Linked DNA regions of Homo sapiens: all the other regions are linked to region 5. Evidence: fine-mapped expression QTL. A gene starts in region 5. Each other region holds a variant in brackets. All regions are shown on one strand. Distances are between the middles of the regions.

Region 1 (5,130 bases), 100 kb before region 5:
GGCCCCAATAGCTTTAAAAAGTGAATTCCAACCAGGTGCACAATGGCTTATGCCTGTAATCCCAGCACTTTGGGAGGCTGAGGCAGGAGGACTGCTTTAACTCAGGAATTTGAGCCTGGGCAATCTAGCAAGACCTCACCTCTTCTAAAAATTTTTTAAAATTCGTCAGGTGTGGTGGCATGTGCCTGTAGTCCCAGCTTCTTGGGAGGCTGAGGTGGGAGGAGTGCTTGAGCCTGAGAGGGCGAGGCTGCAGTGAACTATGATCGTGTCACTGTACTCCCTGCTGGGCAAGAGTGAAACCCCACCTCAAAAAAAAAAAAATTCCATCTCAAACTGGTCATTCTAAGTTCTTTCAACAATGTTATTTATTTCTATGTTATTTTAATCTATTTTTGAAATTAAATTTTATTATCAAAGAGTAATACTTGCTCAAATAAAATCCAAAAGGTACAGAAAACAAATCTCTCTCCCACCTGTCCCCAGCCCTCCTCCTTGAGGCCAGTTTATTGTATGTCCTCTGAGAGGTAGTCTATGCATAACTGCATATTTATCCCTCCTCCCTTTTTTATTAATTAATTAATTAATTTATTTATTTTTGAGACAGAGTCTCGCTCTGTTGCCCAGGCCGGAGTGCAGTGTTGCGATCTTGGCTCACCGCAAGCTCCACCTCCCGGGTTCAGGCCATTCTCCTGCCTCAGCCTCCCAAGTAGCTGGGACTACAGGTGCCCGCCACCACATCTGGCTAATTTTTTGTGTTTCTTTAGTAGAGACGGGGTTTCACTGTGTGAGTCAGGATGGTCTCAATCTCCTGACCTTGTGATCCACCCGCCTTGGCCTCCCAAAGTGCTGGGATTACAGGCGTGAGCCACCGCGCCTGGCTCCCTCCTCCCTTTTTAAAACTGCAAATAGTATCCAGACTTACCTAGCGTTCTGCATCATGCTGTTGTCACTGAAGATACATCTTGGAGATTGCTTCATATCAGTACATACAGCACTGACACATTAGTTTTCATAACTGCCATGACATCATAGTCCTAAAACATGTTCACAGAGTCCTTGATACTTCTCCTTTCAAGAGGTGGCTCGATTCCCCTCCCCAAACATGTGTGCTGGACTTAGTGACATGCTTCTATAGAACAGAATATGGCAGAAGCAATGATGTGTGCCCTCTGAGACTAGGTCAAACAAGACAGTGCAGCTTCCTCCTGTTTTCTATGTCTTGGGTCACTTGCTCCAGGGTCAGCCAACTGCCATGTCATTCAAGCAGCGCTGTGAAGAGAGGCCCATGTGGTGAGGAGCTGAGGCCTCCTGCCAATGGCTAATGTGCTATCTTGGAAAGGGATCTCCCAGCCCCAGTCAAGCCTTCAGGTGACTGCAGCCCTGGTTGACAGTCTGAATACAATCTAATTAGTGACCTGGAGCCAGAATCACCCAGCTAAATTGCTCCCAAATTCCTGACCCACAGAGACTGTGAGATAACATGTTTATTTTAAGCTGCCAAGTTTTGGAATAATTTGTCATGCAGCTATATATATGATATATGATATATATGATATATGATATATCATATATCATATATGATATATCATATATTATATATTATATATATAATTTTTATATAATATATATCATAATATTATATATATTATATATATAAAATATATTTTTTTGAGATAGGGTCTTGCTGTGTCACTCAGGCTAGAGAGCAGTGGCACAATCTCAACTCACTGCAACCTCTGCTTCCTCAGCTCATGAGATCCTCTCACCTCAGCCCCCTGAGTAGCTGGGACTACAGGCGTGCAGTCCCATACCCGGCTAATTTTTTAACTTTTTGTAGAGATGGATAGAGACCATGTTGCTCAGGCTGGTCTCGAACTCCTGGGCTCAAGTGATCCACCCGCTTTGGCCTCCCAAAGTGCTGGGATTCCAGGTGTGAGCCACCACACCCCGCCAGCAATAGATAATTAAGATGCATGTTTAAGATAAATGTGTCCTATCTCCTCCATCATCCCATTTCAATAGGAAAAGCCCTTGGCCAGCCATAAAGCGTGTCATGAA[C/T]ATGAGGTACAACGCTTCCTATCCCATTTTCTCTCCCCAGCTTTCTGATGGCAACCAGCGCATACCTCTGAGTTTGTTCAAACCTGTTGCTCTCCAGTAACACAGTGTGGTCTGTGGGTCTTTGAGCCAAGTCTGTGCTGGCCCATCTCATATGCTCCCAGTTGATGACTTCCCCCAGAGATGTTGGTGTTTTCATCAGTACTTCCACCAGCAATTCTCTGGGTCGGTGTCAGAACCATGTAATAATAAGTTTTTGAAATGTTCAGGAAGTGAAGTCAGCTAAGAAACAAATTTGGCTTTATGAGCCCTTTCCCATCTCCACTGATCTGGGCAGGCCTCCCTGCAGTGTGGAGAGGACCTGTCAACTATATCCTGAGAATAAAGATTTCTTTTTTTAAAAAAAAATCTCATCTTTTCCCTGGAGTGGAAAGGCAGCTAATAGCATTCAGATATTTTGAGATGAAACTGTTACCATGGGAATGTTTCCATATCTCTCCCTTAATAATGATGGGTAGAAACAATGAACAGTACAGCTCTTAGAATTCTAGAGATAAAGGAAATAAGGGGGGAAAAATGAGAGCTGGAAAAACAGATCCCCCTAAAGGACTGCTTATCTCACTCAGAACTCTGCTCTGGTGCTCTCTAGGTGAATGTGGGGAGTTTGTAGGTCAGCGGTTTTTCTCCAAGGGTCAGGGTTCCCATATAGGAAGGAGATCAGTGATCCTGAGGTGGGTGGGGTGTGATTCTTCAGTAATTGCTGGTAAGGGGGTGAAGCTGGTCTGTCCTTCTGAGGCTCTGTGTGCAGGGTAGGGAGTGGAGGAGGAAAACTGAAGAGCTAACAAATTCAGATGCTTCTAAATACTTCTCCGTCTTTGTCCTGGCAAGAGGTCAAAGCACTTGAGGAACTCCTCCTCCCTAGGGCCTCAGACTGTACCCTGAAAGTAGAAGCATGCTGGCACACATTTTCATCTTGTAGTTCCAGAATTTCCTGTGCTGGACTGTCCTCTACAAGGGCTCAGGGATAATTTCTTAACCAGGAAGGCATCTCCTCCTCCATCCACTGTTTGAAGCACTGTAGGGGTCCCCTCAGGTCATTGTCAGCTGAGCTCCTGTTTCTCTAGGGCTTTGAGAAATCAAAGGACAAATGACTTGTTAATGAGCAAAATAATTTATCTCCTGTGACAGGCATTTTACCTTGTCTGCCATAGCCTCATACTCTCTCTCGGAAGGATTTATTTGCCTTTGTTGTTTTTACTTTTTGAGAAGGGTCATCCAAATAGAGCCATCCTGCCTATAAAATGAATGGGAATCCAACCCATTAGCTGAGAATTTAAGAACTCGTGTTGAATGTGTCAGGATAGGCAGATTGGGTATCCCCTTATTGTAAGCACCCCTTAAATCTCTCAAAGATGAAAGAAATGGATACCATCCCACCAAGCACCCCTGCACACTGTGAACTCACCTAAGGTGAGAACTGCCTGCTCACCGAAATCTTTATCTGTCAATTCCCCGCCTCCACCCCTGACCTAAGTTTGCTTGGAATGTCAGCATCTAGGGATTTCTTTTTGTTCTTGAGATCTTTAGTTAAAATACAACATAAGCAGCACTTGAACTGTTTCTTGGTGGTAGCAGCTGAAAGCTAATCTTTATAGGAATGTAGCTTAAGGAGCAGAAACCGTATTGGGTTGGGTGAACAACTAGAGAACTAAGTGTCTTCTTTCTCTGAAGCATCTACTGAAGCAATACATATGGTTGTCCCTGTCTCTCACACCCTCCGGAACCCGCATTTTCTGTTCTAAAATTTGTGATCCACAAAGAGAAAAGCAGTTTAAACATTTGATCTAGCATAAATATAAGCTCAGCAGAGGGAGCGCGGCAAGAGGTTCTAAACATAGGTGGCTCCACAGCACAGAGAAACCAGCCAGGAGACACCCAGGCAAGCGTCCTTGGCTGACTTCCCAGGTCCCTTGGCTTTGGGCTTTCCATGGTCCTGACCACATAAGGAAGGCTCTCTCTGCCAGTGACAGGCATCTCCCAATTCTTTCTCGCTGACTGCTGCGCTAGTAGGTCCTCTTCATTTGGGCTTGGGAGGTCATTTTTGGCAAACAGTAACTCTCACTCCCAAAACGTGGATCCTAAAATGTGGAAGAATCCTGATGACAATGTAAGATGCTACAGCTGCACCTGGCTGGTGGCAGAGTTATAATCTGGTACATGTTTCAGCTGCCACTTACACATAACAGGTGAGCACAGCGTTCATGCTGCTTGAAATGAACACCTATTCTGTTCCAAGCACATTATTACACAGCATATTTTTTCAAATTCAGCTGTACTTTGACAGTTTTTATAGAAAGTATGTGTCTCAATTTTTACATACCAAACTGGAGGAAATTTATCCAGTGAAGTGATTACTGATCTCCAGCCCCAGAAGCGTGAGGCACACAGGTACCTGAATTCTTTCAGGCCAAATGAAACTAACTAAATATTCTTTATGTATGAATTGTTATGGGGCAAGGTGAACACCACCTCCTCCATAAAAGCTTTCTGGGAGCTCCTCAACAGCAGAAAATCTCCCCTCTGCTTGAATTCCCATTGCATTTGTTTTTTTTTTTTTTTTTTTTTGAGATGGAGTCTCGCTCTTTCGCCCAGGCTGTAGAGCAATGGCGCGATCTCGACTCACTGCAACCTCCACCTCCCAGGTTCAAGCGATTCTCCTGCCTCCTCAGCCTCCCGAGTAGCTGGGATTACAGGCATCTGCCATCATGCCCGGCTAATTTTTGTATTTTTGTCGAGATGGGGTTTCACCATGTTGGCCAGGCTGGTCTTGAACTCCAGACCTCAGGTGATCCACCTGCCTCGGCCTCCAAAGGTGCAGGGATTACAGGCGTGAGCCACCGCGCCTGGCCTGCACTTGATTTTATCTCTTATAGGTCTTATTTTTCTACCTATAGTAGATGCTTATTTACATATTACCTCTCCCTATTGTATTGGAAGATCTTTGAATCAGGCATCTCCCCCATAACTATTTCATCTCTATTTCTCACCACATACAGCCCAGCACTTTATACAAAG
Region 2 (5,130 bases), 66 kb after region 5:
CATTCTCTAGTCTCCCAGAAGCCCTGAACTCTTGAACAACCCCAAATGCTAAACTCAGCAGTAAAATGGCTGGTGGCTCCTACCTGAGGGTTCACAGAGGGGCTGCCTGTGCTTGCCTCCCAGCCCTTCCTTCCTGCATCCCAGCCCTTTCTTCCTGTGTATTAAGAGGGTTGCAGCTACTTCAGGGCCAGTGTCTCCACGAGTCATCATGACGGCTTCCTGATCATGGCTCTCTCTCTCTCTTTTTTTTTTTAAGACGAAGTCTCGCTCTGTCGCCCAGGCTGGAGTGCAGTGGCATGATCTCGGCTCACTGCAAGCTCCGCCTCCTGGGTTCACGCCATTCTCCTGCCTCAGCCTCCCTAGTAGCTGGGACTAGAGGCATGCACCACCACGCTCAGCTAATTTTTTTTGTATTTTTAGTATAGACGGGGTTTTACTATGTTAGCCAGGATGGTCTTGATCTCCTGATCTCGTGATCAGCCCGCCTCAGCCTCCCAAAATGCTGGGATTACAGACATGAGCCACCGCACCCGGCCGCCTCTCTCTTTTACTAACCACAGGGATTCAGAAAATTCTTCCTCCCTCGGGGCAAAAAAAAAAAAATAAATAAAAAATCATATATTATAGATGAACTGATGTAGTTTGGATCTGTTTCCCTGCCAAATCTCATGTTGAACTGTAATTCCCAATATTGGAGGTGGGGCTTGGTGGGAGGGGATTGGATCATGGGGGCGGATCCCTCATGAATGGCTTAGCGCCATCTCTTTGGTGCTGTCCACACAATTGTGAGTGAGTTCTTTGGAGAATTAGTTGTTTTGTTTGTTTGTTTTTTGAGATGGATTCTCGCTCTGTCACCCAGGCTGGAGTGCAGTGGTGCAATCTCAGCTCACTGCAACCTCCACCTCCTGGATTCAAGCGATTCTCCTGCCTCAGCCGCCTGAGTAGCCAGGATTATAGGCCTGCGCCACTGCGGCCAGCTAATTTTTTTGTATTTTTAGTAAAGATGGGGTTTCACTGTGTTGGTCAGGGTGGTCTCGAACTCCTGACCTCAAATGATCCACCTGCCTTGGCCTCCCAAAGTGTTGGGATTACAGGCTTGAGCCACTGCACCTGGCCTGGAGATCTGGTTGTTTAAGTGTGTGGCACCTCCCCTCCACCCCACTCTCTCTCCTGCTCCTGCTTTTGCCATGTGAAGTTCCTGCTTCACCTTCTGCCATGAGTTAAAGCTCCCTGAGATCTTTCCAGAAGCCAAGCAGATGCCAGCACTGTGCTTGTACAGCCCGCAGAACTGTGAGTCAATTAAGCCTCTTTTCTTTATAAATTACCCATTCTAGCCAGGTGTGATGGCTCACGTCTGTAATCCCAGCACTTTGGGAGGCCGAGGCAGGCGGATCACTTGAGGTTAGAAGTTTGAGACCAGCCTGGCAAACATGGTGAAACCCCATCTTTACTAAAAATACAAAAATTAGCCCGGTGTGGTGGCACACACTTGTAATCACAGCTACTTGGGAGGCTGAGGCAGGAGAATCGCTTGAACCCGGGAGGAGGAGGTTGCAGTGAGCCAAGATCGTGCCACTGCACTCTAGCCTAGGTAACAGAGTGAGACTCCATCTCAAATAAAATAAAATAAAGTGAAATAAAGTAAAATAAATAAAATAAAATGTACCCATTCTTTGATATTTCTTTACAGCAAATTTACCCATATAGGCAACGGCCTAATACATGAACCCTCTCAACCCCCATCCCAGTTCCCTCCTTACAGAAGCTACTGCTGTCTGTTTGGAGTGTATCCTTACAGACCTTTTTCTAAATGTTTACATACACCTATACCAGCTATATAAACACACTATTGATTTTGTGGGATATCTTAGTTTGGGTCCTCCCAAAGGCAGAGACCCTGAGACAAAGATTTGCAGGGGTAAGTTGTTGACCTGGGAGCAGATCCCAGGAAATAGCAACAGGGAAGCTGGGAAGTGAGAAAGGAATGACAGGTTGTGATTTGCAAAGATTGTCAGCCCTGGTATTGATCGTATTGCATAGGCTCTTCTTACAAAGTGCTGGTGCTCCTCTCGTGAGAGGCGGGGTGTATTAGTTCCTTCTCACACTGTTATGAAGAAATGCCTGAAACTGGGTAATTTATAAAGAAAAGAGGCTTAATTGGCTCATGGTTCTGTGGGCTGTACAGGAAACATAGCTGGGGAGGCCTCAGAAAACTTACAATCATGGTGGAAGGCCAAGGGGAAACATGGCTGGAGAAGGAGCAAGAGAAAGAGCAGGGAGGTACTATACACTTTTAAACAACCAGATCTTGTAAGAACTCACTCACTATCACAAGAGCAGCAAGGGAGGACTCTGACCCCATGATGCAATCACCTCCCACCTGGCCCTTCCTCCAACACCAGGGATTACAATTCAACATAAGATTTGGGTGGGGGGGGATACAAATGCAAACCATATCACAGGACCTGTGTTCCCACCTCCTAAACCTGGGTGGGACTTGTGACTGCCTGGCAAATTCTAAAGTTTTTTGTAGAGGTGGGGTCTTGCTGTGTTGTCCAGGCTGGTCTCCTTGGCCTCCCAAAGTGCTGGGATTGCAGGTGTGAGCCAACATGCCTGGTCCAATTTAGATTTTTTTTTTAAGATGGAGTCTTGCTGTGTTGCCCAGGCTGGAATATAGTGGCACCATCTCGGCTCACTGCAAGCTCTACCTCCTGGGTTCAAGCAATTATCCCTGCCTCAGCCTCTCAAGTAGCTGGGATTACAGGTGCCTGCCACCATGCCCAGCTAATTTTTGTATTTTTAGTAGAGATGGAGTTTCGCCACATTGGCCAGGCTGGTCTCGAACTCCTGATCTCAGGTGATCCACCCACCTCCGTCTCTTAAAGTGCTGGGATTACAGGCACGAGCCACTGCACCCGGCCCCAATTTAGATTTTAAAGAAATTACTAAGGCTGCTAAACCTTATGTTGCTCTTAGCCCCAAGGGCGCTGAGAGTTGGGTTTTCCCAATCCCAGGCTTCCTGGGTATAGCTCAGACCACCCTTAAGTTTTCCACCCATGCTCCCTCATCCATTCTTTCTTCCCTTCTACAAATTTTCCCCTTCTCTGTTGGCCAGGAACATTTATGCAATAATGTCACACCAGTGACTACCAGAGCTGAATGC[C/T]GATAGAGTAACAGAATGCTAAGATGGACATTTCAACCAGGCAGACACAACGACTAGCAATGGAAGCCAGACCACAGTGAAGATCTTTTCTTTTCTCTTTTCTTTCCTTTTCTTTTTTTTCTTTCTTTCTTTTCTTTCTTTCTCTTTCTCTCTCTCTCTCTCTCTCCCTCCCTCCCTCCCTTTTTCTCTCTCTCTTTCTTTCCTTTCTTTCTTTTTTTTTTTTGAGACAGAGTCTCACTCTGTTGCCCAGGCTGGAGTGCAGTGGCGCAATCTCGGCTCACTGCAAGCTTGGCTCACTGCAACCTCCGCCTCCCAGGTTCACTCCATTCTCCTGCCTCAGCCTCCTGAGTAGCTGGCACTACAGGCGCCCGCCACCGCGCCCGGCTAACTTTTTGCATTTTTAGTAGAGACGGGGTTTCACCGTGTTAGCCAGGATGGTCTCGATCTCCTGACCTCATGATCTGCTCGCCTCGGCCTCCCAAAGTGCTGGGATTACAGGCGTGAGCCACTGCGCCCAGCCCTTCCTTCCTTCCTTCCTTCCTCTTTCTTTCTCCTTCCCTCCCTCCCTCTCTCCTTCCTTCCTTCTCTCTCTCTCTTTTTTTTTTTTTTTGAGACAGTCTTGCTCTGTCACTAGGTAATCTTGGCTCACTGCAACCTCTGCCTCCCAGGTTCATGCCATTCTCCTGCCTCAGCCTCCTGAGTAGCTGGGACTACAGGTGCGCACCACCACACCCGGCTAATTTTTGTGTTGTTAGTAGAGATGAGGTGTCACCATGTTGGCCAGGCTGGTCTCAAACTCCTGACCTTGTGATCTGCCCACCTTGGCCTCCCAAAATGCTGGGATTACAGGTGTGAGCCACCGTGCCCAGCCTCTTTCTTTTTTTTTTGACAGAGTCTTGCTCTGTTGCCCAGGCTGGAGTGCAATGGCACAATCTTGGCTCACTGCAACTTCCCCCTCCTGGATTCAAGCGATTCTCCTGCTTCAGGCCCTCAAGTAGCTGGGATTACAGGTGCGTGCCACCACGCCCAGCTAATTTCATATTTTTAGTAGAGTTGGGATTTCACCATGTTAGGCTGGTCACAAACTCCTGACCTCAAGTGATCCACCCGCCTTGGCCTCCCAATGTGCTGGGATTACAGGTATGAGCTACCACATCTGATCCCTAATTTTTATTTTTAATTGACAAGTAATTGCATACGTTTATGGACTATGATATGATGTTTCAATACTGTATATATTATAAAGCAGGTCACGCTAATGAACATATCCATCACCTCACATACTTATTTCTTTGTAGCAAGAACAGTTTGTTTTTTTAGAGACAGGTTCTGTAAAATATTGCCCAGGCTGGTTTTGAACACCTGGGCTGAAGTGATCCTCCCATCTCAGCCTCCCAAAGTGCTGGGATTACACATGTGAGCTACCGCACCAGACCCTATAGGGAGACCATTTAAAATCCACTCATTTCACAAGTTTGAAAATACATTATGGGGCGGGGCGCAGTCACTCACGCCTGTAATCCCAGCACTTTGGGAGGCCGAGGCAGGTGGATCATGAGGTCACGAGTTCAAGACCAGCCTGGCCAAGATGGTGAAACCCTGTCTCTACTAAAAATATAAAAATTAGCCAGGCGTGGTGGCGGGCGCCTGTAGTCCCAGCTCCTCAGGAGGCTGAGGCAGAGAATTGCTTGAACCTGGGAGGTGGAGGTTGCCTTGAGCTGAGATTGTGCCACTGCACTCCAGCCTGGGCAACAGAAAGAGACTCTGTCTCAAAAAAAAAAAAAGAAAGAAAAAGAAAAAAATATACATTATGATTAGCTATAGCCACCTTGCTGTGCAACAGATCACCAGCACTTACTCTTCCTACTGGAAACTTTGTATCCTTTGGGCCACATGTTTTCTGCGACCCCAGACTCTAGTAAGCACTGTTCTACTCTCTACTTCTGTGAATGTGACTTTTTTTTTTT
Region 3 (5,130 bases), 110 kb before region 5:
GTGCCACCATGCCCAGCTAATTTTGTATTTTTAATAGAGACGAGGTTTCTCCATGTTGGTCAGGCTGGTCTCGAACTCCCAACCTCAGGTGATCTGCGTGCCTTGGCCTCCCGAAGTGCTGGGATTACAGGCGTGAGCCACCGCGCCCGGCAGGATCTGATTTCTTAGTACCTGAGAGCAGGACAAGGGGCCAGCAGACCTAGGCTCTTGTCCAAGCTCTGTCACTGTTTAGCCTTGTGGCCCTGGGGAAGGCAGTTTCCTAATCTCAGTTTTGTCTTTTGTGAAACCAGTGGGAGGGACTAAGAGATTTCTGGAGGAGAATCCATCTCTAAATTCCATAATCCCTGATTTTCCCTTCCAAAACACTGCTGATAAACACGTTTACAGACCAAGTCTCTAGACCTGGAGATTAGTGAAACATAGTTCTCTGCCCTCAGTGAACTCGAAGTCAGGTGGAAAAGGCATGCTAGCTAAAAACAACTGCAGGTGCAATGTGACAGGTACAAGTAGAGATGGGTGCAAAGGATGTGGTGGCATTAAGGCGTCCAAGTAGGTGATGCTGGAGCTGGATCTTAAAAGATTGAGTAGGAGTTCACCAGGTGGATGGGGCCTGATGTGTTCAAGACAGAAGGAACTGCATGTACTAAGGCAGGAAGGTGTGAATCTGCATTGGAACTGCCCACTTGTCCACTGTTAGGCTGACAGTGACATTCGGGGAGTCTTTGCATTGACTGCTTCCTCTGCCCCCCCTTTAGAACAATCTGGTACTCCCTGGGTTGGGATGAGGGGACTTATGGTTGACGGCTCCATATGGCTTCCCTGCCCATGAAGTGCATCACCAAGGAGATGAGTGACTTGAGTAAGTCTCCCCTTCCACATGCCGGTATCTGTTCTCTGAATGAAAATCAGCGAAGCAGACTGAAACTGAGGGGCTGGCTCAAAGGGTCTGAAGGTGACCCATAACTCTTCAGCCTCGCCCACCATCAGGCCAGGTCAGAGGAGGAACGTGGCACTGTGCAAAATGGGGCCCAGTGGCTGACGTGGGCCGTCTCGGTTTGTTGGGCATCCTCCCCTGTGCAGCCAAAGCACGTGATCTGTCCTACAGCTGGGGTGGCCTGTTGTGGCTCCTTGGGGAGCTGTCCACGTCATCTGCAGAGAGATGAAATCAACCTGTCCCTTCTCCGTGAAGGACATCCTGCAACAGAAATGCACTTCCCCCAAACCCAGCTTCTCAATGTGGTCACTGTAGCTCTGGGCTGCAGCTCACATGCCTGGCTCTGCATACTCCAAAATACACAAGAACGGCAGAGGGGAGACGCATGCATCCAAGACATCATTAGCTGTGAGCAGCCTCATAGGCTGTGAGCCATGGGGTTAACCAGGCTCAGAGAAGGCCTGCAAAGCGGCAGTAAACATTCTGCTGGCTTGGCTTGGCTTGCTGCAACAATTTATATCCCAGGAAAAAAAGGGGCCAAAAGTCACGGAAATAACAGAAATGCTGAAGGAACTGGCACATTTGCCAGATGGTTCCTGGGGCACAATCGTATTTGCAGAGGGACAGTCTGCAGCGGAGGTCCTTTCATCAGAGAGCAAAGACTCTGGCTGACCGCTCATTCATTATCCCAGGACTCACTTGGAGGAGGGTGGTGGCTGGAGCACACCCACGCTTGTCCTTCCTTCCCGGAACCTTGAAGCTGTGGTTGCCTGAAGCTGAAGTGGCATTTGGGATTGGGCCTCTCCAAACACCCACAGCTCTGCTTCTTTAGACACCTGCCACCTGTGTCTCTTTTTCCCAACTTACACCAGCCAGTCCATTCTCCCAGCTGCCAGCTGTCATTTTCTCCTTAGTGCAACTGGTCAGATTTTAGTAAATAACACAGCTTGGGCTCTGACAATATGAATTCAGTTGTGCTGCCAGGGCCGAACTATGAGGCAGTAGGGACAAGGCTGGGACAGGCTAAGTGGGCTTGAAAATATGAATAACCCGGCTGGGCGCGGTGGCTCACGCCTGTAATCCCAGCACTTTGGGAGGCAGAGGCGGGCAGATCACGAGGTCAGGAGATCGAGACCATCCTGGCTAACACGGTGAAACCCCGTCTCCACTAAAAATACAAAAAAAAAATTAGCCGGGCATGGTGGCGGACGCCTGTAGTCCCATCTACTTGGGAGGCTGAGGCAGGAGAATGGCGTGAACCTGGGAGGCGGAGCTTGCAATGAGCCGAGATCGCGCCACTGCACTTCACCCTGGGCGACAGAGCGAGACTCCGTCTCAAAAAAAAAAAAAAGAAAAGAAAAGAAAAGAAAATATGAATAACTGGAAGGGCATTTAAAATTATTTGCTGCATTATCACAGAATTTTCAAGAACTCATTGCTTTGTCCTGGTATTGCATATGTCTGTGTTTGTCTTCCTCCATTAAACTAGAGACTTTTTTTTTTTTTTGAGACAGACTCTCGCTCTGTCACTCAGGCTGGAGTGCAGTGGCGCAATCTCAGCTCCCTGCAATCTCCACCTCCCAGGTTCAAGCAATTCTCCTGCCTCAACCTCCCAAGTAGCTGGAACTACAGGAGCATACTACCAAATCTGGCTAATTTTTTTGTATTTTTAGTAGAGATGGGGATTTACCATGTTGGCCAGGCTGATCTTGAACTGGTCTCAAATGATCCACCTGCTTCAGCCTCCCAAAGCCAGGATTCCAGGCATGAGCCACTGCGCCCAGCCTAAACTAGAGATTTTGAGCAGTAGGGAAGATGTCTGTCTTGGCTTTGCTACATTCTCCATGCGGATTGGTGGTTATAGCCTGAATCATGCTGTTGCCCCCAGAAACCTTGGTCATGGGGGTGATGGGGTGAGGGTGAGTGGACAGTCAACACAAAGGCATCACTACAAGCAGAGGCCCTATTCTTGGTGGTCAGTGCCTACCTCTGCATAAGGACAGTGTCATAGCAGCAGAGGGAGGCTGTGCGTGGTCAGCTACTTATTGAAAGGGTGCCCACCTATTAGAAGTTCTATAATTGTCCATTTATTGCAACTTCTGTGTTATATGATGACCTCCTTAAGGAAAGGATGTCTCTATAATCATCTTA[C/A]TTTCTCTACATCCTAGTACCATGCTTGTCAGTGTGGCATTGAGGGATTTGGTGGAAAACATACATATTTATCCATTTAGACTTCCATTTGCATCTGGCAGGATAACTTTCAGCAGGCTGGTTAACCTCAATGAGCCTCAGTTTCCTTGGATTTAAATGAGGCTAATATTACCCATCTTGTGAGGATGTAGGTAAAAAGGATGGGACAGTACTTGGCACAGAGTAGCTCTCAGTAAGCATCCGTTCCCCATTCCTTCCCCGCCCAGGATACTCAATACATGGAGTTGAATAAATGAATAAATTATTTCAGAGATGAATACACTTTGGCATCTTTCTTGGATATATTCACACTCCCCAAAGCCCAAATATTGCAGTTAAAAAAAAAACATCCAACGGCCGGGTGCGGTGGCTCATGCCTGTAATCTCAGCACTTTGGGAGGCCAAGGCGCGTGGATAGTTTGAGGTCAGGAGTTTGAGACCAGCCTGGCCAATGTGGTGAAGCCCCGTCTCTACTACAAATACAAAAGTTAGCCAGGCGTAGTGGTGAGCGCCTGTAGTCCCAGCTACTCGGGAGGCTGAGGCAGGAGAATCACTTGAGCCTGGGAGGCACAGGTTGCAATGAGCCAAGACTGCACCACTGCACTCCAGTTTGGGCGACAGAGTGAGACCCTGTCTGAAAAAAAAAAAAAAAAAAAAACAACTAGGTAACCGAATTTGCAGGAGGCAGCCATCCTACAGCAGGGGCTAAAATGGTTTCCAGCAGATGGAGAAGCACCTCTGTTGTTTTCTAAAGGGAAATACATGCCTGTAATCCCAGCACTTTGGGAGGCTGAGGTGGGAGGATCATTTGAGCCCAGGAGTTTGAGACCAGCCTGGGCAACATAGTGATACTCCATCCTGACAAATAAAAAATTTAAAAATTAGCTGGGCACAGTGGCAGGCACCTGTAGTCCCAGCTACTCAGAAGGTGGAGATGGGGGGATTGTCTGAGCCCAGGAGTTCAAGGCTGTAGTGAGCTGTGTTTGCACCACGGCACTCCAGCCTGGGTAACACAGTAAGACCTTGTCTCAAAAAATAAACAAATACATAAAATAAAATAATGCAAAGAAACTACATCAGGAAACACGACTAGACGTGGTGGATCACGCCTGTAATCCCAGCACTTTGAGAGGCCGAGGCGGGTGGATCACCTGAAGTAAGGAGTTCGAGACCAGCCTGGGCAACATGCGGAAAGCCCGTCTCTACTAAAAATACTAATATCAGCCGGGTGTGGTCGCGGGCGCCTGTAATCCCGGCCACTTGGGAGGCTGAGTAACGATAATCGCTTGAACCCAGGAGGCAGTTGTTGCTGTGAGCTGAGATGGCGCCACTGCACTCCTGCCTGGGCGACAAGACCAAGACTCCATCTCAAAAAAAAAGAAAAAGAAAAAGAAAGAAACTACATCAGGAAACAATGCCACAGGACCTTGTGTTTGACCTCTTTTATTTCTCTGCTTGATACAGAAAGCACCCAGTTGGTACCTAATAAATGCACACTAAAGGCTTTGCCTCCTTAGAGGTGCTGGAGTAGCAAGACTGGCTGGGCGCCACATGAAGTCCTGGAGCCACAGTGTCCTCTAGTGGGAAAATGAGGCCATAGCACCCCACAGAGCTGACAGACACACAGTGCGGTGCCAGAGCTGGGCAGTTTCCCTAAAGTGACCTGGATTAGTCTCAGTGCAGGCGCCAGGGCAGACTTCCAGGGCTGTTTTCATGCCTAGAAAACAAAAAACAAACAAACAATACACTTTACAGGACGTGTTTTTCTGCACGTATTACTCAGAAAGCCATTGCAGCCACATTTGTTCCTTAAAATTAATTGTCAGTCAATTTGCGGGTCTAGGCGATAATGATAGGCTAGCATCACAGAAAGAAACCAGATATTTGCTGCCTCTGATGGAAGTATACAGCACCCCCTAAGTATTTTTGCTACAGAATTGAACGTGAATCTGTTCAAGTCTCTAGATCCAATTCACAGGAAATACATTGGTCATTAATGAATAAAT
Region 4 (5,000 bases), 47 kb before region 5:
TTCATCTTTAGGAGGGATTCATTTTTCTAGTCACAGAAAGAAGAACTGTTTATTTATTTATATCTTCCCTCATTCCATAGAGGATATGAACTGACTTTTAAAACTACTAAGGACTTTCCCCTCAACTTCTGATTTCTGATCATCAGACTTCTGGTAGCAGAATGAGATTTGTTTTGATCTTTCCCCTGTGTGTATGTTAAAGCTGGGAAATAAAATACGCTTATTCACAAACAAGTGGCAAAATTATCACTGGTTAATAAGTGTAAAAAATTTTTACTAACTTCCTAGTATAAGAATTATTTATACTTTAAAAAGAATTTTGCCTTTTGTGACTCTAAAACTTTTATGACTAATGCTGCTGGAAATATATTCTGACAATTTCCTTCATTTTTGTTTTATGATTCATCATGGATAGAATAAATATATGACTATTTTAAAATAAGGCCCACATGCTTCTACACTGTATAACCACTATAGGGTAATCACTATCAACAATTTTGAGAATAAAACTTCAAGGAGAGCTCTGACTTTTGTCTAAGCTTGGAGATAGATCTTTATTTAGATCATCTAAATCAGAGAAATGAGATGTCAAGGTGAGGAAATATAAACTTATTAACTTACAAAATGGTAATGATGACAGCTTTGATCATGCTATCAAACTCAAATGCAGAAAAGAAATTCTTTAAAAAATAGGAAAGAAAATAATTATCTTCCAAACATACACAGTTAACCCCTTCTATTCTTGTTTTAAATGGGGTCTCTGGGAGAGTAATTTGATATAGTGAGAAAAAGATAAAACTTAAGATACAAAGAGAAAGAAACGAGAAAAAGAAGTCAAACATTTAGAAAGCATTTGAGGCTGGGCGCGGTGGCTCACACTTATAATCCCAGCACTTTGGGAGGCCGAGGAGTGCAGATCACCTGAGATCAAGAGTTCGAGACCAGCCTGGCTAACATGGCGAAACCCTGTCTCTACTAAAAATACAAAAGTTAGCTGGGTGTGGTGGCATGTGCCTGTAGTCCCAGTACTTGGGAGGCTGAGGCAGGAGAATCGCTTGAACCCGGGAGGCAGAGGTTGCAGTGAGCCGATATTCCATCACTGCACTCCAGTCTGGGAGACAAAGAAAGACTCCGTCTCAAAAAAAAGAAAGCATCTGACGGGGCTTCCCTTATAAAAGAGTACTAAATGGACTATAACATCTATAATCACACATGATTTATTCTTTAAAATAATGAATGGTAAGATAATGCTTCTATAAATGTGATCCTGTTAGTCATTAAAGATTAATAAAAACTACATTGTTATATTTTATTTACTCTCCTTTTAAAAAAGTTTAATAATTTAAATGTTTCCAAAAGAAGCAATAGCAAGAATATACAAAACAGAACCTAATCTTTTATTTTGTCTAAGTGATTTTTCCTCACATAATAAAGGGATACATTTTCAAAAAGTAATTTTAAGAAAAATAAACAATGCACTTTTCTCCTTTTTTTTTTGAGACAGAATCTTGCTCTGTCGCCTAGGCTGGAGTGCAGTTGTGCGATCTTGGCTCACTGCAACCTCTGCCTCCCAGGTTCAAGCGATTCTCCTGCCTCAGTCTCCCGAGTAGCTGGGTCTATAGGCACCTGCCACCATGCCCAGCTAATTTTTCACATTTTTAGTAGAGACGGGGTTTCACCATGTTAGCCAGGATGGTCTCGATCTCCTAACCTCATGATCTGCCTGCCTCGGCCCCCCAAAGTGCTGGGATTACAGGCATGATCCATTGCGCCCGGCCAACGATGCACTTTTCATTAAAGCTTGAAATGCAAAGCTAAAGAGCTCTAAGGTATTGGCCCAATGTCATATTTAAAAACTAACCACCTGAAAATGTAACACCAAAAAAGGACTACTAAAAAGTATTAAAAATTCTACTTAATAAAGCTATAAAAAATTATGGTATTTGGCTGGGCGTGGTGGCTCACACACTTTCGGGAAGCCAAGGCGAGCAAATTACTTGAGGCCAGGAGTTTGAGACCAGGCTAGCCCCATCTCTACTAAAAATACAAAAATTAGCCAGGCATGGTGGTGCATCCCTGTAATCCCAGCTACTTGGGAGGCTGAGGCAGGAGAATCATGTGAACCTGGGAGGCGGAGGTTGCAGTGAGCTGAGATCGTGCCATTGCACTCCACCCTGGGAGACAGAGACTCCATCTCAAAAAAAAAAAAAAAAAAGAAAAGAAAAGAAAAGATATTGTTGTTGTCTAAATAAAAGATTCCGTTATAGGCAATTTAAAGTTTGCACTTGTGTAAAACAAGGTATAGTTTAAAAGTTGAAAATTTTACCTCTCACTCAGGTCCACCTAAGAACTGAGTAACAGATGGTGGTAGATATTTTACTCTTGTGGGATGGGGGTGGGGATGAGGGATTAACAGATTAGCAGAACTAATAACAGGCCCGAGAACAAAGTAACAATTAAAAAACTGAGAACAAACTAATAGAGGGGATTTCATATACTGCTAGGCTAAGGCCTCAGAGGTAAATTCTTGTAAGAGTTCCCACAGTATTAAGACTGTTTCCCAAATTTCCTGTATCATAAATACAACACCTAGCTGAATCAGAATGGAATCTATGTGTTTTTTTGTTGTTTTTTGTTTTGTTTTTTTCTTGAGGTGGGGTCTCCTCGCTCTGTCGCCCAGGCTGGAGTGCAGTGGCACGATCTCGGCTCACTGCAAGCTCCGTCTCCTGGGTTCATGCCATTCTCCTGCCTCAGCCTCCTAAGTAGCTAGGGCTACAGGTGCCCGCCACCACGCCCAGCTAATTTTTTTGTATTTTTAGTAGAGACGGGGTTTCACCATCTTAGCCAGGATGGTCTCGATATCCTACCTCATGATCCACCCGCCTTGGCCTCCCAAAGTGCTGGGATTACATGCGTGAACCACTTTGCCCGGCCAGAATCTATGTTTTTAACAAGTAACACTTAGTGACTATTACGATGAGGTAAGTTTGGGAAATACTGGATTCGGAGTAAATTAGAAAGAAGAATCCTAACTAAGGAAAAGTAAACCAGGAATAAGAGTAAACTAGCACCAGATTAAGGGATAACTCAAATTAATTATTTATACCAGGAGTTG[G/T]CACATTTTCTGTAAAGGACCACATAGCAAATATTTTAGGCTTTGGGGCCAACAGGCAAAATCAAGCATGTCATGTAGGTACTTACATAGTAAGAAAGAAATCAAACTTCTACAAAGTTTTTTTGACAAAACTCAAAATATAACTGAGTACAGTTTTGCAATACAGATTTATTAATGAGAAGAATGAAATTCTTTTTGGAAGGAAAACATTTTGCTTTGTTGGGGTTTGAAGTTAGTGTTGTCCACCATGAAAATTAATTGCAAATGTTTATATGTTAATGCTGATCTGTAATGAGATTTTACATGTCCCATCTTTGAAAATGTCTCTTTGCACAAATATATACTGCCAATACTGGTACATATCCACAAACCTATGACTTTATAGAGCACAAGGTATTTATAAAATTATATTTGATTATTTTCTTGATGTTTGCCTTTTAGCATGTCATTACACTGCAGATTAATCAATTCCAATTGAAGGTTAATGGAAACTCAATTGCATAGTTAAGTGGATTACAAAATATGGAAATTTCCTTTGCATTTGCATCAAGGTCTAAAAAGATGATGCTGGAACTGTAATTTGAACCTGGAATATTTATCTGCTTTCCCATCTAAAAAACACTTTATTATTCTTTTCATGCTTTGGCATGATGAGTATGCAATGAATATAAATAAAAGGTCCTGGTAGAGTGATATACATAGTACTTGAAATGCTGTCTAGTGTGTCAGCGCAATTAGTAGTGCACTCAGCAGCAGTGAGAAGAGATGAGAGTAGCACATATAAGCTCTATTGAAACTATTAAACTTTGCCTTTGCAGCACACAAACAGCCACAGATAACATAAAAGAATGACCATGGCTATGTTACAATCAAACTTTATTTTTATGAAATGATAAAATTTGAATGTAATATAATTTTCACCTATCACAAAATATTATTTGACTTTTTTCAATCATTTAAAAATATATGGCCAGGCACAGTGGTTCACACCTGTAATCCCTGCACTTTGAAAGGCCAAGGCAGGCAGATCACCTAAGGTCAGGAGTTCGAGACCAGCCTGGCCAACATGGTGAAACCCCGTCTCTACCAAAAATACAAAAATTAGCTGGATGTGGTGGCACATGCCCGTAGTCCCAGCTACTTGGGAGGCTGAGGCAGGAGAATCACCTGAACCCAGTGAGCTGAGATCACACCACTGCACTCCAACGTGGGCAACAGAGCGAGACTCCATCTCAAATAAATAAATAAATAAAAATATAAAATGTTTCCTTAGTGTACAGACTGTGAAAATAGGTGGTAGGCCATGAGTCATTGCTAACCACTCACTTATACTATAAACTTTTCCTGAAAGATATCTGCAACTTTTTATTCTTAAAAACAATACCTCTCCCGACAAACAGAATCAAAGCAATCACCTCAAGCTGGGTGTGGTGGTGTGGTGACTCACACCTGTAATCCCAGCTACTCAGGAGGCTGAGGCAGGAGGAGGCCAGGAGTTCAAGACCAGCCTGGGCAATATAGCAAGGACCTGTTTCTTTCTTTCTTTTTTTGAGACAGAGTCTCAATCTGTAGCCCAGGCTGGAGTGCAGTGGTGCAATCTCAGCTCACTGCAACCTCCACCTCCCAGATTCAAATGATTCTCGTGCCTCAGCCTCCCGAGTAGCTGGGATTACAGGTATGCGCCAATATGCCCAGCTAACTTTTGTATTTTTAGTAGAGACAGGGTTTTGCCACGTTGGCCACGCTGGTCTCGAACTCCTGGCTTCAAGTGATCCCCCTGCCTCAGCCTCCCAAAGTGCTGGGATTACAGGCATGAGCCACTGCACCCGGCCCCCGCTTCTTAAAATAAAAATTACCTTTAATAATAATTTAAAAAAAGACAACC
Region 5 (5,105 bases):
AATTTTTTGTAGAGACAGGATCTCACTACATTGCCCAGGTTGGTCTCAAACTCCTTGGCCTCAAGTGATCCTCCTGCCTCAGCCTCCCAGAGTGCTTGGAATACAGGTATAAGCCACCTCACCCAGCTGTGTGGGAGCATTATTAAAGGTTTTTTTTCAGACAGAGTCTTGCTCTGCTGCCCAGGCTGGCATGTCTCAGCTCACTGCAACCTCCTCCTCCAGGGTTCAAGTGATTCTCCTGCTTCAGCCTCCAGAGTAGCTGGGACTACAGGTGTGTGCCACCACACCCGGCTAATTTTCGTATTTTTAGTAGAGACGGGGTTTCACCATGTTGGCCAGGCTCGTCTCGAACTCCTGACCTCAAGTGATCTGCCTGCCTTGGCCTCCCAAAGTGCTGGGATTACAGGCATGAGCCACAGTGCCTGTAATCCCAGGCACTGCACTCCAGCCTCGGTGACAGAGCGAGACTCTGTCTCAAAACAACAACAACAACAAACTATTTCATCATATATTTAAGGATCAGTTTTTTAAGCAAGTCGTCTACTCACTTTCCCTACCTTGCTCCAAAAGCATAAGCATGAATTATATGTTAAATAACACCTTCCTGAACCTTGTCAAGGAAGTCCATGAAAAATACAGATTAAGATATAGTTATAAATAAAAATAAAAATTTACAACTGCAAATCAAAAAGTAAACTATGGCTGGCTAAGCTTACTCCTAAATTCTAATTCTAAAGGAAGATTTCTCCAAACAGCAGGTGGATGAAATTTCAATGAACTCAAAGAACACTACAGAAGAGGGTAAAAACGTGTTAACTTTCTTCCTTGGGATTCCATCACGGTGACCCTGAGGGGTTACCAAGAATGAAATAATGGTTTAAAACAGAATGCTTCGAAACAGCAATGGCAGACTATTAACGAATGTATTAACTCTTTAAAACAAACAATCCAGTTATCCCTGGCCCACTTTCTTATTTTAGTCCTAGCAACTGAGTTACATAACTTGCAGAGTGAAATCAAGAAGTCCCCGCTGTTGCGTCCTCATGTCAGTGAACAGAGGGAACTCTCCTTTATTATATTTTCAAAAGGTGAAATGTATGAAATTTCTGGGTGGGGGGAGATATCAAATGTCTGTGTGCCTGTGGTTATTAATAAGTTAACTACGAAGTAACTATGGAATAAATAATGCTTAAAAAGAGGGCAAAGATTACGCTTTAGGGTAACAACAATTGGACCCTCCCCAGATAATTCTAATTCATTGAGCGCTTGCATAACTCGAAGTTGAGTAAAAATTTTTGATGAAATATCTCGAGTACGAGGAGTTAGTCCAATGCAAAGTACAAGTACTGCTAAAAAGGATCCGGCCCTTTCCACTACTCATATCTTAATGTCAATACATAGAGAGAGTGAAGACTGCGAGTGCCAAAAAAATGCAGAAACCTGACCTTGCCCACAAGTCGAATAGTTCTGCACCCCTCCCCCAGCTTCCCCGGGAGCCGGTTCACGCAATCCCTATTGGTCAGTCTGCTTATTCCAGCACCTGCCTGGCAGTGATAAGGGAATCTCCAGAAGACAAGAAGGTCTGAAAGGAGGCGGCCTGGGAAACTGTGAGGCCCAGAAGGACAGGGTTCGAAGAGGAAAAGGAGGAGAGAAGCTTCGGAGGGATGAGGTCGGGCGGTTAGGGCTAATAGGGACATGGCTTGGGAGGACGGCTGGGGAACAGGGAAAGGAGATCTCTGGAGGGCCCAGGTGAGGTGACAGGGTGAGGGCCGCCGGCGGCCAGCCAAAAGAGAAGAGTGAAGGGGCTGGAAGGCCTAGGAACGCGGAGAAAGGCGAGCGGAGCTGTGAGGCGCGAGAAGGGCCGGGGCTGCAAAGGTTGGGGCTGCAGGGGCGACAGGGGCGACAGGGGCTGCAGGGGCAGGGAGGGCAGGGACTCAGGGGCCGGCCAGAGGGTGCGGACTCACGTTCTCCCACCAGCAGGATCCGCACGTCTTTCTTCATGTCGGCGGCTCTCGGGGGCCGGCCTCCGCCCGCACGCACGGAGTGGACTCCTCTCACCAGGAGCACCCACCCCACGGCGCCACCTGCCAGCCTCTTCGGCCGCCGGGGCCCGCCGCGCCGCCCCCTCAGTTGCTTCCCCGCAAGAGAGCCGGGACAGCGCCAGCTCCGCCTCCTCCGGCCCAGCGGGCTGTGGCGGCGGCGGCGGCGGCGGCGGCGGCGGCGGCGGCGGCGGCGGCGGCGGGGACGACGGCACGCGGCGAGGGACACGCGCTTTCGGAACGCGAACGCGCTCTGCGCCGGAACAGCGCTCCCGCTGTCAGGCCGCCGCAGCGCAGGCCCAGGGAGCCTCGCCCACCCTCCTTTGGGCACCGCGACCCCGGAGACACTTGGGCCAGGAATTTGAATGGCGGATTCCCTGGTTTAACCCCGTTTATTTTATAGATAGGGACAGAAATTCCCTGTTCAAAGTCACATAGCTAGAGCTTGGCAGTGACTCAGAGCAGGGATCTTCTCACCAGACCATAAACTCCGGGAGGGCAGCGATCAGCTTGCATGGTTTTCAGCTGCGTCCCCACGTTATTGGATAGGGCCGTCAGAAAATGCTTGATCGAGTAGGGCGACTGGCTCCCAGGATCCGGCGCTTTCCACTCCCCAAAGCCCGTCACCCTAGTTGCTTTTGCCTCTGATGCTTATAAAATACGATTATAAGATTCGTTTTTACGCTGTGTGAACAAGACTCCTTTCTTTATAACCAAACTAAGTGACTTTTTTTCTGTCTATGTAGTTTATTTTATGGCAGGGTTTTCGGACACTCTTCTTTACTCAGGCTTACCCAGCGTAATGCTAGACACGGAGGTGGCACTCGATAATAAACTCTAGATGATTTTTCTAACATTGCCTTAATTTTCTCGTGACCCTCTCCATCTGGAGGAATTTGTTGTTACATGCTTAATGTTTGGTACACAATGGCAAATATATATATATACATACGCGTGCGAATATATATCACATCCCTAATACTTGGCACACAGTGGGAAATATAAAATACATAAATTAATGAGGAAGCACTATCTGTGCATAATGTACATTTTTTCTATCTTAAATATTACACAATAAACACTTAAAGGGAATGAAATGTGCGTAATACCAACTTCCCTTTCTCCTAGGAGAAGTCATGTGGTCTCTTGCAGCAGTTAAGAGTTGCTGGCAAATTTCCTGGGTTTGAATCTAGGCTCCACATAATAGCTCTGTGATCTCGACTAAGTGCTTTTATTTTTACTTCCCTCAGCCACTGTTCCTTCTTCTGTAGCATGGAAATAATGATGATAATACCTTCCTCTTGAGATGGTTGTGAGTAATAAATACTATAATACTTGTCAAGCATTTGGTACAGTGCCAGACTCAGAGCGTGTGCTCTACTGATCTCAGCTATCATTATTATATTAAAAAGTCACTAAAAAGTTGTAATCCACAGATTTTTTGTTTTGTTTTGGTTTTGTTTTGAGACGGAGTCTCGCTCTGTCGCCCAGGCTGGAGTGCAGTGGCGCAATCTCGGCTCACTGCAAGCTCCGCCTCCTGGGTTCACGCCATTCTCCTGCCTCAGCCTCCCGAGTAGCTGGGACTACAGGCGTCCGCCACCACGCCCGGCTAATTTTTTTTTTTTTTTTTTTGTATTTTTAGTGGAGACGGGGTTTCACCGTGTTAGCCAGGATGGTCTCGATCTCCTGACGTCGTGATCCGCCTGCCTTGGCCTCCCAAAGTGCTGGGATTACAGGCGTGAGCCACCGCGCCCAGCCTAATCCACAGGTTTTGAGGCAAATATGTTGTTGTGTTTACTGCAGAATTTCACCATCTTAGTTATTTGATGTCCATAAGGAGCACAGGGGAGAAAGCCCTTTCAAAAACAACTCTATCCCTGTCCGTGTTAGGAAAAAGAGGGAGATGGGAAAGACATACTCCTTGTTCACTGAGAGATAATGAAGTCGCGTTCCTGGGTAGATGTAAATAAGGTGCTTTCATCTCCCTCCTCCCCCCACACCTCAATGAGTGGAAATGTGAAATTCAGGAGGCTTGGTTACCTGATCTTTCAGGGAAAAGTAGCCCTCAGAATTTTAGTGTTACAAAATGTTTGAGTTGGAAGAACCCTGACAGAGCTCCTATTCCAATCCCGTTACTCTGTAGATAAAAAAAAAAAAGCAAGGCCCACAGAGACGCAATGACCTGGCACAGACGGCATGGCTGAGGCTGAGCTTTGCTCTGCCATTCCTAGTGCATGACTCTAGGCAACTCATGTCACCTAGTTGTGCCTCAGTTTCCTCTCTACCAAGTGAAGGCTGTGATCTCTTATGAAATTGTTTGGAGGAGCTCATAAAATAATGTATTTTATGTGAATAATGTAATGAATTGTAAATCTTTTTCCTAAAAAACAAACAAACAAAAAACAAGTTACACAAATATCAGAGCACAGAGGACAAAAGCCTTTTACAGAGGGGCAAATTCTTTAGGGCACTGCTTGCACCATGCAGCTTTGTGAAGAATCTAGATCCCTAAGAGCTCTCAATCAGCGTTGCCAGTTAATGACAATGTTGACTCATTGGGGCTTCTCCAGGAGGGTGAGCAGTAACAAGGTCTTCGTGGGGTTGTAGATGTGTACTGGGTAATGTCTGGTAGGCAGGGGCTTGGAAAAAGCATTTATTTAGAGGGACATCACAGATACAATATTGCAAAGAACTCCTTTGTAAATAAAACTTACTTAAAAATCCATATCCAGCCAGGTATGGTGGTTCAACACCTATAATCCCAAAGCTTGGGGTAGCTGCGGTGGGAGGATCTCTTGAGGCCAGGAGTGCAAGACCAGCCTGAGAAACATTGAAACCCCATCTCTACAAAAAATAAACAAATTAGCTGGGCGTGGTGGCATGCACCTGTAGTCCCAGTTGGGAGGCTGAGGTGGGAGGATCACTGGAGACCAGGAGTTGGAGGCTGCAGTGAGCTATGATGGCACCATTGCACTCAAGTCTGGGTGACAGAGCCAGAGTCTGTCTCTAAATAAAAAAAAATAAAAATCTGACTAGGCCGGGCACAATAGCTCACACCTGTAATCC

What was found. PIP is the estimated chance that this variant, and not a neighbour inherited with it, causes the effect.
Region 1: its variant is fine-mapped to the expression of RHOT1 in whole blood (INTERVAL, PIP above 0.99).
Region 2: its variant is fine-mapped to the expression of RHOT1 in blood mononuclear cells (TOPMed, PIP above 0.99). The same link has a PIP of 0.9 or more in aorta, tibial artery and transverse colon.
Region 3: its variant is fine-mapped to the expression of RHOT1 in whole blood (TOPMed, PIP above 0.99).
Region 4: its variant is fine-mapped to the expression of RHOT1 in blood mononuclear cells (TOPMed, PIP 0.96). The same link has a PIP of 0.9 or more in whole blood.

What each region holds. Positions count from the first base shown.
Region 1 is chr17:32,239,846-32,244,975 of GRCh38, reverse strand. It overlaps LOC124903979 (a long non-coding RNA gene), which reads right to left and starts at 1,492. Exons shown (of 2, transcript XR_007065709.1): 1 at 923-1,492. RefSeq lists a silencer at 3,892-4,186. The variant C/T (reference allele first, on the strand shown) is at 2,059.
Region 2 is chr17:32,073,347-32,078,476 of GRCh38, reverse strand. No RefSeq gene overlaps it. Among named protein-coding and RNA genes, the nearest start is that of VILMIR, 7.1 kb to the left of the region's middle. The variant C/T (reference allele first, on the strand shown) is at 3,164.
Region 3 is chr17:32,252,796-32,257,925 of GRCh38, reverse strand. LOC124903979 (a long non-coding RNA gene) reads right to left here. Exons shown (of 2, transcript XR_007065709.1): 2 at 4,552-4,841. Among named protein-coding and RNA genes, the nearest start is that of RHBDL3, 10 kb to the left of the region's middle. The variant C/A (reference allele first, on the strand shown) is at 3,086.
Region 4 is chr17:32,186,952-32,191,951 of GRCh38, reverse strand. The region is part of intron 8 of RHOT1 (ras homolog family member T1); the gene reads right to left. Among named protein-coding and RNA genes, the nearest start is that of RHOT1, 47 kb to the right of the region's middle. The variant G/T (reference allele first, on the strand shown) is at 3,116.
Region 5 is chr17:32,139,589-32,144,693 of GRCh38, reverse strand. RHOT1 (ras homolog family member T1) reads right to left here and starts at 2,192. Exons shown (of 20, transcript NM_001033566.3): 1 at 1,965-2,192. The coding sequence starts at 2,001. LOC105371730 (a long non-coding RNA gene) reads left to right here and starts at 1,559. Exons shown (of 2, transcript NR_136413.1): 1 at 1,559-1,669; 2 at 1,981-3,468. RefSeq lists silencers at 1,912-1,971, 2,002-2,231 and an enhancer at 2,692-2,861.